Linked DNA regions of Homo sapiens: region 1 is linked to region 2. The links come from fine-mapping of genetic effects on gene expression. A gene starts in region 2. The other region holds a variant in brackets. All regions are shown on one strand. Distances are between the middles of the regions.

Region 1 (5,389 bases), 910 kb after region 2:
TTACGACATTTGACAGAGGGCAGAGAGAGAGCAAGCATTAAAACGGCAGAAGCTACTGGAAACGTCGTGAGCAATCTACAGTCATACCACCGTGAACGCTCCCAATCTTGTCTGGTCTCTGAAGTACAGAGTAGATGCGATTGGGCCCAGGTTCGGGCCTGTTTCATTGTTGGATAGAAGGAACTTTCTGAATGCTTTGTTCCGCTTAAGCTGTGTATTGTTGAAGCACTCAATGGCCCAGCCATTCGACTAGGAGCATCCGTATTGCCTCTTTGTGATATGGTTTAGGCTAATGAAAAGACTTGGTTTCCAACACCCTCTTCTACCTCTGGGCAGATTCCAGATAGCTGATCTACCATTACGTTTCCGAAATCATGGGACGACCAGCTGCAAGCGAGACGATGCTCAGTGGGTTGAAACTGATCACACAGGAGGCATTTGGCAACGGCTTTCTCTCCCAGCTGTTTGGATCCTGGACCTTCACTCAGGAAATTGGTGGCTCAGATCAAGAAGCTTGTCTCATGTAATCGAATAGTGCTGGAGGAATCCAAAGCCTTGGTGTGCTGCAACATGAAGAGGGATCTGGAACAGGCCAACGAGAGAACATGTGAAGTACTGAAGAAAATCTGGGGTTCTGCCCAAGGGTTGGACTCCATGTGAAAGGATTTAGAAAGGAAGATGAACGAGTTTCGAGTGTCAGGCTGCACAGTGACCACATCGGGTTCCAGCTGAGAAGAACACCATTCCTTCCGGGTGTCCTTATCCATTCTCACAGCCTGAAACAAGCTCACTGGTAGCTTATGCTTGTAAGCAGGACCGGGAACATTCACGCTATTTATTCGGGAGTACTCTGGATAAATCGTTCCATTATTTCGGAAATGTAATGCTAGGTCAGGTATCTGGAATCTTCCTGGAGGTAGAAGAGCGTATTGGATGGAAGGAACTTCGTGAATGCGATCATTGAACTCCAGAAAGTACACCAAGCTTGTACTGCTCGGGGCCTTAGGTAGGGTCTTCTGTGGCGCACTTGACCTTATTTATGTTTTACAACGTTTGACAGAGGACAGAAAGAGAGCAAGCATTAAAAGGGCAAAAGCTACCAGAAACATCGTGAACAATCTACAGCCATACCACCGTGAACGCTCCCAATCTCGTCTGGCCTCTGAAGTACAGAGTAGAGGAGATTGGGCCCAGGTAGGGGCCTGTTTCATAGTTGGATGGAAGGAACTTTGTGAATGCTATCATTTAACTTAAGCTGTCTATTACTAAACCAGTCAGCCGCCCAGCCATTCGACTAGGAGCATCCGTATTGCCTCTTTGTGATATGGTTTAGGCTAATGAAAAGACTTGGTTTCCAACACCCTCTTCTACCTCTGGGCAGATTCCAGATAGCTGATCTACCATTACGTTTCCGAAATCATGGGACGACCAGCTGCAAGTGAGACGATGCTCAGTGGGTTGAAACTGATCACTCAGGAGGCATTTGGCAACGGCCTTCTCTCCCAGCTGTTTGGATCCTGGACCTTCACTCAGGAAATTGGTGGCTCAGATCAAGAAGCTTGTCTCATGTAATCGAATAGTGCTGGAGGAATCCAAAGCCTTGGTGTGCTGCAACATGAAGACGGATCTGGAACAGGCCAACGAGAGAACATGTGAAGTACTGAAGAAAATCTGGGGTTCTGCCCAAGGGTTGGACTCCATGTGAAAGGACTTAGAAAGGAAGATGAACGAGTTTCGAGTGTCAGGCTGCACACTGACCACATCGGGTTCCGGCTGAGAAGAACACCATTGCTTCCATCTGTCCTTATCCATTCTCACAGCCTGAGACAAGCTCACTGGTAGCTTATGCTTGCAAGCAGGACTGGGAACATTCACGCTATTTATTCGGGAGTACTGACTCCAGAAAGTACAGCAACCTTGGACTGCTCAGCGCCATTGGTACGGTCTTCCGTGGTGCACTTGGCCTTATTTATTTTTTACGACATTTGACAGAGGACAGAGAGAGAGCAAGCATTAAAACGGCAGAAGCTACTGGAAACGTCGTGAACAATCTACAGTCATACCACCGTGAACGCTCCCAATCTTGTCTGGTCTCTGAAGTACAGAGTAGATGCGATTGGGTCCAGGTTCGGGCCTGTTTCATTGTTGGATAGAAGGAACTTCCTGAATGCTATTGTTCAGCTTAAGCTGCGTATTGTTGAAGCACTCAATGGCCCAGCCATTCGACTAGGAGCATCCGTATTGCCTCTTTGTGATATGGTTTAGGCTAATGAAAAGACTTGGTTTCCAACACCCTCTTCTACCTCTGGGCAGATTCCAGATAGCTGATCTACCATTACGTTTCCGAAATCATGGGACGACCAGCTGCAAGTGAGACGATGCTCAGTGGGTTGAAACTGATCACTCAGGAGGCATTTGGCAACGGCCTTCTCTCCCAGCTGTTTGGATCCTGGACCTTCACTCAGGAAATTGGTGGCTCAGATCAAGAAGCTTGTCTCATGTAATCGAATATTGCTGGAGGAATCCAAAGCCTTGGTGTGCTGCAACATGAAGAGGGATCTGGAACAGGCCAACGAGAGAACATGTGAAGTACTGAAGAAAATCTGGGGTTCTGCCCGAGGGTTGGACTCCATGTGAAAGGACTTAGAAAGGAAGATGAACGAGTTTCGAGTGTCAGGCTGCACACTGACCACACGGGGTT[C/A]CGGCTGAGAAGAACACCATTGCTTCCACCTGTCCTTATCCATTCTCACAGCCTGAGACAAGCTCACTGGTAGCTTATGCTTCCAAGCAGGACTAGGAACATTCACGCTATTTATTCGGGAGTACTCTGGATAAATCGTCCCATTATTTCGGAAATGTAATGCTAGGTCAGGTATCTGGAATCTTCCTGGAGGTAGAAGAGGGTATTGGATGGAAGGAACTTCATGAATGCGATCATTGAACTCCAGAAAGTACACCAACCTTGTACTGCTCAGGGCCTTAGGTAGGGTCTTCTGTGGTGCACTTGACCTTATTTATGTTTTACAACGTTTGTCAGAGGACAGAAAGAGAACAAGCATTAAAAGGGCAAAAGCTACCAGAAACATCGTGAACAACCTACACCCATACCACTGTGAACGCTCCCAATCTCGTCTGGCCTCTGATGTACAGAGTAGAGGAGATTGGGCCCAGGTAGGGGCCTGTTTCATAGTTGGATGGAAGGAACTTTGTGAATGCTATCATTTAACTTAAGCTGTCTATTACTAAAGCAGTCAACAGCCCAGCCGTTCGACTAGGAGCACCCATATTGCCTCTTTGTGATATGGTTTTGGCTAATGAAAAGACTTGGTTTCCAACACCCTCTTCTACCTCTGGGCAGATTCCAGATAGCTGATCTACCATTACGTTTCCGAAATCATGGGACGACCAGCTGCAAGCGAGACGATGCTCAGTGGGTTGAAACTGATCACACAGGAGGCATTTGGCAACGGCCTTCTCTCCCAGCTGTTTGGATCCTGGACCTTCAATCAGGAAATTGGTGGCTCAGATCAAGAAGCTTGTCTCATGTAATCGAATAGTGCTGGAGGAATCCAAAGCCTTGGTGTGCTGCAACATGAAGAGGGATCTGGAACAGGCCAACGAGAGAACATGTGAAGTACTGAAGAAAATCTGGGGTTCTGCCCAAGGGTTGGACTCCATGTGAAAGGACTTAGAAAGGAAGATGAATGAGTTTCGAGTGTCAGGCTGCACACTGACCACATCGGGTTCCAGCTGAGAAGAACACCATTGCTTCCGGCTGTCCTTATCCATTCTCACAGCCTGAAACAAGCTCACTGGTAGCTTATGCTTGCAAGCAGGACCGAGAACATTCACGCTATTTATTCGGGAGTACTCTGGATAAATCGTCCCATTATTTCGGAAATGTAATGCTAGGTCAGGTATCTGGAATGTTCCTGGAGGTAGAAGAGGGTATTGGATGGAAGGAACTTCGTGAATGCGATCATTGAACTCCAGAAAGTACAACAACCTTGTACTGCTCAGGGCCTTAGGTAGGGTCTTCTGTGGCGCACTTGACCTTATTTATGTTTTACAACGTTTGACAGAGGACAGAAAGAGAGCAAGCATTAAAAGGGCAAAAGCTACCAGAAACATCGTGAACAATCTACAGCCATACCACCGTGAACGCTCCCAATCTCGTCTGGCCTCTGAAGTACAGAGTAGAGGAGATTGGGCCCAGGTAGGGGCCTGTTTCATAGTTGAATGGAAGGAACTTTGTGAATGCTATCATTTAACTTAAGCTGTCTATTACTAAACCAGTCAGCTGCCCAGCCATTCGACTAGGAGCATCCGTATTGCCTCTTTGTGATATGGTTTAGGCTAATGAAAAGACTTGGTTTCCAACACCCTCTTCTACCTCTGAGCAGATCCCAGATAGCTGATCTACCATTACGTTTCCGAAATCATGGGACGACCAGCTGCAAGCGAGACGATGCTCAGTGGGTTGAAACTGATCACTCAGGAGGCATTTGGCAACGGCCTTCTCTCCCAGCTGTTTGAGTCCTGGACCTTCACTCAGGAAATTGGTGGCTCAGATCAAGAAGCTTGTCTCATGTAATCGAATAGTGCTGAAGGAATCCAAAGCCTTGGTGTGCTGCAACATGAAGAGGGATCTGGAACAGGCCAACGAGAGAACATGTGAAGTACTGCAGAAAATCTGGGGCTCTGCTCAAGGGTTGGACTCCATGTGAAAGTACTTACACAGGAAGATGAATGAGTTTCGAGTGTCAGGCTGCACACTGACCGCACCGGGTTCCGGCTGAGAAGAACACCATTGCTTCCAGCTGTCCTTATCCATTGTCACAGCCTGAGTCATGCTCGCTGGTAGCTCACGTGTGGAAGCAGGACTCGGAAAATCCACGCTATGTATTATCGAGTAGTTTGAAAGTACTGTAGCTTTAAAATAAAATAAAATCACTTAAAATAAAATGAAATACTACAATGCTTTTCTGTCTAAGCATCAGTATTTTATAGTCATATACACACAACTATAACAGTTTAATGGTGATCACAGGATTGCTCTTAGAAGCTCTAATTTCTCTTGTCTTTGGCTAGTACTGTATAAAACCAGAAGTGTGTTTTATTGATTTTGGTGACAGAAAAATCTGAAATAATGTTTGTTTTGGTCATGTTTTCCTTCTAGAACAGAGAATCTAAAGGGGTATTAGCCCGCCTCACCTCCCCTGTCCTACATAGAGACACAGAGTCATCTGAGGCATTGGCTTTTTCTCCAAGTAGGTACCGATACCTCAGATTCGGGAAATTCCAAATCAAAAATAAGACTTAGCTTCTACAACAAATACTTCTGATGAAACATTCACTGAGGAGCATACTCCTAAACCAGACATATGTT
Region 2 (5,389 bases):
CGCCCAGCTAATTTATGTATCTTTTTAGTAGAGTGGGAGTTTCACCATGTTGGCCAGGCTGGTCTCAAACTCCTGACCTCAAATGATCCTCCTGCCTCAGCCTCCCAAAGTGCTAGGATTACAGGCATGAGCCACTGTGCCCGACCTGCATTTGTATTTATGGATACATGTTTGTGTGCATGTATTTATACACATGCTGGCTGTGACTTAACCAAAACAAAATCCTATAAAGTAAAATGTCCAGATTTTACAAAACACTTTCATAAACAATGAAAGCTTGGTATCAACAATACAAAATGACCTCAAAAACCCAATCATTTGTAAATTGAGTGATCTACTTGTAAATTTAATAAAAACATGGTATTAAACAATATTCAGATCAAAGGGAACATCATAACAGATATGTCAGTTATCTAGGAAGTAATGAAAAGGCTAATTCTGTATGCCAAAATCTATGATAAACCTGTTTATATTCACAAGCTTTCATTATTAAAATGAAAAAAGGCTGAACATAAATGAAATAATTATTCAATATAAGAAACTAGAAAAAACAATTAAAATAGTAAAATAAAAGAGAATAAAGATAAAAACGGAAATTACTAAAATAGTATAAATAGTAGCCAACAGAAATATATCCAAACATCATTTCTCTGAAAATAACTATAAAACAGAAAAAGTACTAGCATATTAGATTGAGAAAAAATAAGATGGCACAAAGAAATGAATGAGATTATGAATAAAAAGGCAATAAAATCACAGATTTAAGAGATTAAAAGAAACATTATAAGTGCCGGCCGACACCCCGTCTGGGAGGTAAGGAGCGCCTCTGCCTGGCCGCCCCGTCTGGGAGGTGGGGAGCGCCTCTGCCCGGCCACCCCGTCTAGGAAGTGAGTGCCTCTGCCCGGCCGCCCCGTCTGGGAAGTGAGGAGCACCTCTGCCCCGCCGCCCCGTCTGGGAGGTGTACCCAACAGCTCCGAAGAGACAGCGACCATCGAGAATGGGCCATGATGACGATGGCGGTTTTGTCGAAAAGAAAAGGGGGAAATGTGGGGAAAAGAAAGAGAGAACAGATTGTTACTGTGTCTATATAGAAAGAAGTAGACATAGGAGACTCCATTTTGTTCTGTACTAAGAAAAATTCTTCTGCCTTGGGATGCTGTTAATCTATAACCTTACCCCCAACCCCGTGCTCTCTGAAACATGTGCTGTGTCCACTCAGGGTTAAATGGATTAAGGGCAGTGCAAGATGTGCTTTGTTAAACAGATGCTTGAAGGCAGCATGCTCCTTAAGAGTCATCACCACTCCCTAATCTCAAGTACCCAGGGACACAAACACTGCGGAAGGCCCCAGGGTCCTCTGCCTAGGAAAACCAGAGACCTTTGTTCACTTGTTTATCTGCTGACCTTCTCTCCACTATTATCCTATGACCCTGCCACATCACCCTCTCCGAGAAACACCCAAGAATGATCAATAAATACTAAAAAAAAAAAAAAAAAAAAAAGAAAGATTATAAGTGCATAGTCTATGTACTTCTATGGCAATAAATATGAGAATTCTGAAGCGAGTGGCTAGTTTCTTGCAAAAATATTCTAACTGGCTTCCCAAAGAGGCAGAAAACTGAATCTACAAATAAAGGAAGGTGTTGAAAAGGTAATTAAAGAGACGCCAGGTTAAAAAATAATATACATCAGACCCAGATGGTTTCACAGTTGTGTTCTACTTGAGCTTTAAAGAACAAATCATTTCTATGTAACATAAACTTTTCTAGGCTAAAGAAAAAGCTGGAAAATTGCCCGATTTCATGATGTTAGTGTAACTTTTAAGCTATAACTTGCTAAGATGAGTGGAAAATAGTGGAAAAAATTGTAGGATAATTCTATATGCTTATTGTGCATGATTAGGTGCAAACATTCTAAATTACAACTCGATAGATTCTACTATATTCAAGATAATGACCAATATTTTTAATATTGGATGAAAGCATGAATGAATGGCTTAAGATCATTTATTTTATTAAATTAAAGGAGAAAACCATCTGTTTATATTCATGGGAGGTGATGATGGAAAGGCATTTGGTAAATTGCCTAAAAATGTGAGGCTATTCCTAAAAAATCTCTAGGTAAGATAAGAGTAGAAGAACATGACCATTACTTAACAGCAAATATCATTGGAAAGAAAAAAGCAATTATATATTTCTTTTAAAAATCAAGGGAAAAATACAGAATGAACACCAGTACCACTCTTACTTAACATGGCTTTGAAGATTCTTGATAAACCAGAAAGCTAAAGCAATTGTTAAATTATTAACATATATTTTAAAGCTACAACAATGTTTAGTTTGCAGATGTTGACACTAAATATCTAGAAAATTGAAAAAACAATTAAAGGTACTTAAGAATTAGTGAGGCAGAGTAGTAAAATGAATGATAAAAGCTGTATATGTCAAAATTGTCTTGCATTTTATGCCAATAGAATAAATTTTAAAATTAGATTATATTTTTATTCATAATAGCAGCTAAAACTACAGAATAACTAATAAAATAGATTTTAATATACATAGATTATATACACACCTATATATGTTTTTTCTTTTCTTAGTCAATCGTGTTTGTGTGTGTATAAACATATATTTCCAGGAACTTTGTGCTCACAGTGAAGGACAAAGCCACATCCTGAATGAATGAAGAAATATAAAATATTCCTTGTTGGGGGGGATGAGAAACAGTCATGTAACCTATTAATTTAATACAATTCCAAGCAAAATCTTTTGATACAAAGAATGTAATGAAAGAGAGCAACATGAATACTCTGTCTCACTTCCCAGGTCAATGTTAACATAGCTAGAAAATGGAAAAGTGCTTACCTTGCTGGTGTTCAGTAAGCAAAATGTAACCCTTTCTTATTTCCCTCGTTCCCACACCTAGACGACCATGGGGCCACGACAGAGAAGCAAGAGGGTGCATTGCACTGAGAACAAGCAGCTTGTCCTCTTTCTCCCAGAATAGCTCACCAGGACTGAACTATTTCTACTTAAAATATTATACTTCTGGGAAGTTGATAGATAAGCATGGAATGTCGAGAAAACTAAGGCAACTGACCATGTGTCTCAAAGAGGGCAGCCCCATAAACTTCTGCGAGGCATTATTAAGATGCTCTCACTCTTGTTGCTGCTTTTATACACTACTCTTCTGTGTTTATAGCTGCAACGTCAATGGGCAGGCGAATTTCTACTTCTCTTGTCCAGTTGCTAGAGGAAAGCAGAAAGTTGCACACATAACTGATGGTTGAGTCAGTCCATGAAACTCCAGACATCATTCCCCGGGGTTATGTGGAGGTTAGTCAGACTGCAACCCTTTTTCATTGTCTTTCCTTAATCCTCATGAAAAGTTGCACTTTTCTTTTGTCGTTAGAGCTGATTTAGAAATTGTAATTTATGTTTCATTAATATTCATTTTTGTCAACATGATTATTGTTTTTTAAGGAAATATTTATTGCATCTACTTATTATTTGGCATTGACCATGAGATGATGTGATTCGGGAAACCTTGATAATAAATTTTCCCTCTGGAATTGCAAACTCTATCCTTCTCACTCTGAACTGCAGTTTCTCTCAATTCTTTGCAATTTCATGCATCCCAAGGAGGTGAAAAATACTCCTCTCTTACTGGAGATAACTTTAAATTAAATCCCTGATCTGTTACATTTTCTGTGACAAAAGGGCTTTCTTAAGATATTATTCTGGATTTTGTACATCAGCAAAGCCTGTTGTTTCCAGCCTGTTAGTGTGATATATCAAAAATGCACACAGACATATAAATTTCTGATCAATTATTTTGAAAACTCTAACCCATATGAAACTTTAACCAATGTCCATATTTTTAAGTTACTATTTTTAATAGCCACACAATAATTCCTTCTTCCTGAAATATTCCATAGACATAATGTAACCCTAGGAAACCCAGTTGCCCTTTGCATGGCTGTGGAGAACTTCTCAATACTTGATTGTTTCACATAAGGGAAATTAGATTTTTAATAAAAAGATCACAGTTATCTTTGCCAGACAGTTAAATACCTGCATGAAGTACTCATTGAAAATATACTTTTTTAATACAATGTTTTAAAGGTATACCCATGAAGCTAAAAAGACTGCAAGAAACAGAAGCCAAAAAGACTGCAAGAAACACTGCAAAGCAAATACCAGCTCTGACAGATGTCACGTGGCATCTGCTGAAACACGAATGGAGGTTTTATTAATGTTCAACTGTATTGTGTACAATAGCAACAGCTGATTAGCGATGGGAGTGGAAGATTCTGACTTCACTCTTCCCCATCACTGTTTCTCTAGCTGCTAATTAAAATATCTCAGAAATTTTAGACATCTTTTTATAACTCATTGTAATATTTGTTCTCCCTCAAATCTACTCCATACAATTCCATATGCCTTTTCTGACTTACATAATTCTGCTTTGACATAAATGATTAATACAGTTTGAGATGAAAAAGAATACAAGTGTAAATAAAAAACTCCCTAATACTGCGAAATTTTATTTTATTTTTATTTTTATTGTATTTTTGAGACACAGCTTCACTCTGTCGCCCATGCTGGAGCACAGTGGTGCAATCGAGGCTCACTGCAACCTCCATCTCCCAGGCTGAAGAGATTCTCTTGCCTAAGCCTCCCAAGTAACTGGGACTACAGGCACGTGACACACCATGCATGGCTAATTTTTGTATTATCAGAGATGAGGTTTTGCCATGTTGGCCAGGCTTGTCTTGAACTCCTGACCTGAAGTGATCTGCCCACCTTGGCCTCCCCAAGTCCTGGGATTAGAGGTGTGAGTCTCCATGCCCATCCATAATGCAAAATTTGAAAATGCCTTTGTTTTGTATTAAAACCTAGTTGTCCAAAAGATTTCAAATAAACTATATATTTGCACAAAGGATCACAGTTATACTTTGATTCCTTAAAAAAAGGGAAAATAACCATGCTTAGAAAATGCATCCACACTTTTCACACAGCAAATGTACTAAAAGATCTTCATTTGATTAAATATTTTTTCATGTTTGAATGGAAACCACAAGATCTGTATAACAGACATGTTCTTAGAGTCTAAGAATGCTTCCTTGATACCAGCCAGTTTCAGCTGACATCTAGCAATTCTAGTATTCATGTGAACTTGCTATAACAACATCAGGATACTTCATAAAGCAATTGTTGAAAAAAAAAAGTCAAACTCTGTAAAATATTTGAAGAGATTTATCCTGAGCCAAATATGAGCAATCAGTGTCCCATGACACAGCCCTCAGGAGGTCCTGAGAACATGTGCCCAAGGTGGTCAACTTGGTTTTGTACAACAAGGCTACAACTTGGTTTTGTACATTTTAGGG

Which allele goes with the higher level. Positions count from the first base shown, and alleles are read on the strand shown. Sizes are in standard deviations (SD) of each study's normalised expression.
In carriers of allele A in region 1, the expression in aorta of the gene that starts at base 3,147 in region 2 tends to be lower than with C alone (small effect, 0.30 SD a copy in GTEx).

The links. PIP is the estimated chance that this variant, and not a neighbour inherited with it, causes the effect.
Region 1: its variant is the best candidate, but not a certain one, in a credible set for the expression of LINC03113 in aorta (GTEx, PIP 0.72).

The regions. Positions count from the first base shown.
Region 1 is chrX:9,409,810-9,415,198 of GRCh38, forward strand. It overlaps LOC107985634 (a long non-coding RNA gene), which reads right to left. Exons shown (of 4, transcript XR_001755795.1): 3 at 4,738-4,932; 4 at 1-4,649. It also overlaps the pseudogene LOC442443. Among named protein-coding and RNA genes, the nearest start is that of TBL1X, 53 kb to the right of the region's middle. RefSeq lists a silencer at 4,646-4,851. The variant C/A (reference allele first, on the strand shown) is at 2,702.
Region 2 is chrX:8,501,418-8,506,806 of GRCh38, forward strand. LINC03113 (long intergenic non-protein coding RNA 3113) reads right to left here and starts at 3,147. Exons shown (of 5, transcript XR_001755793.2): 1 at 2,865-3,147.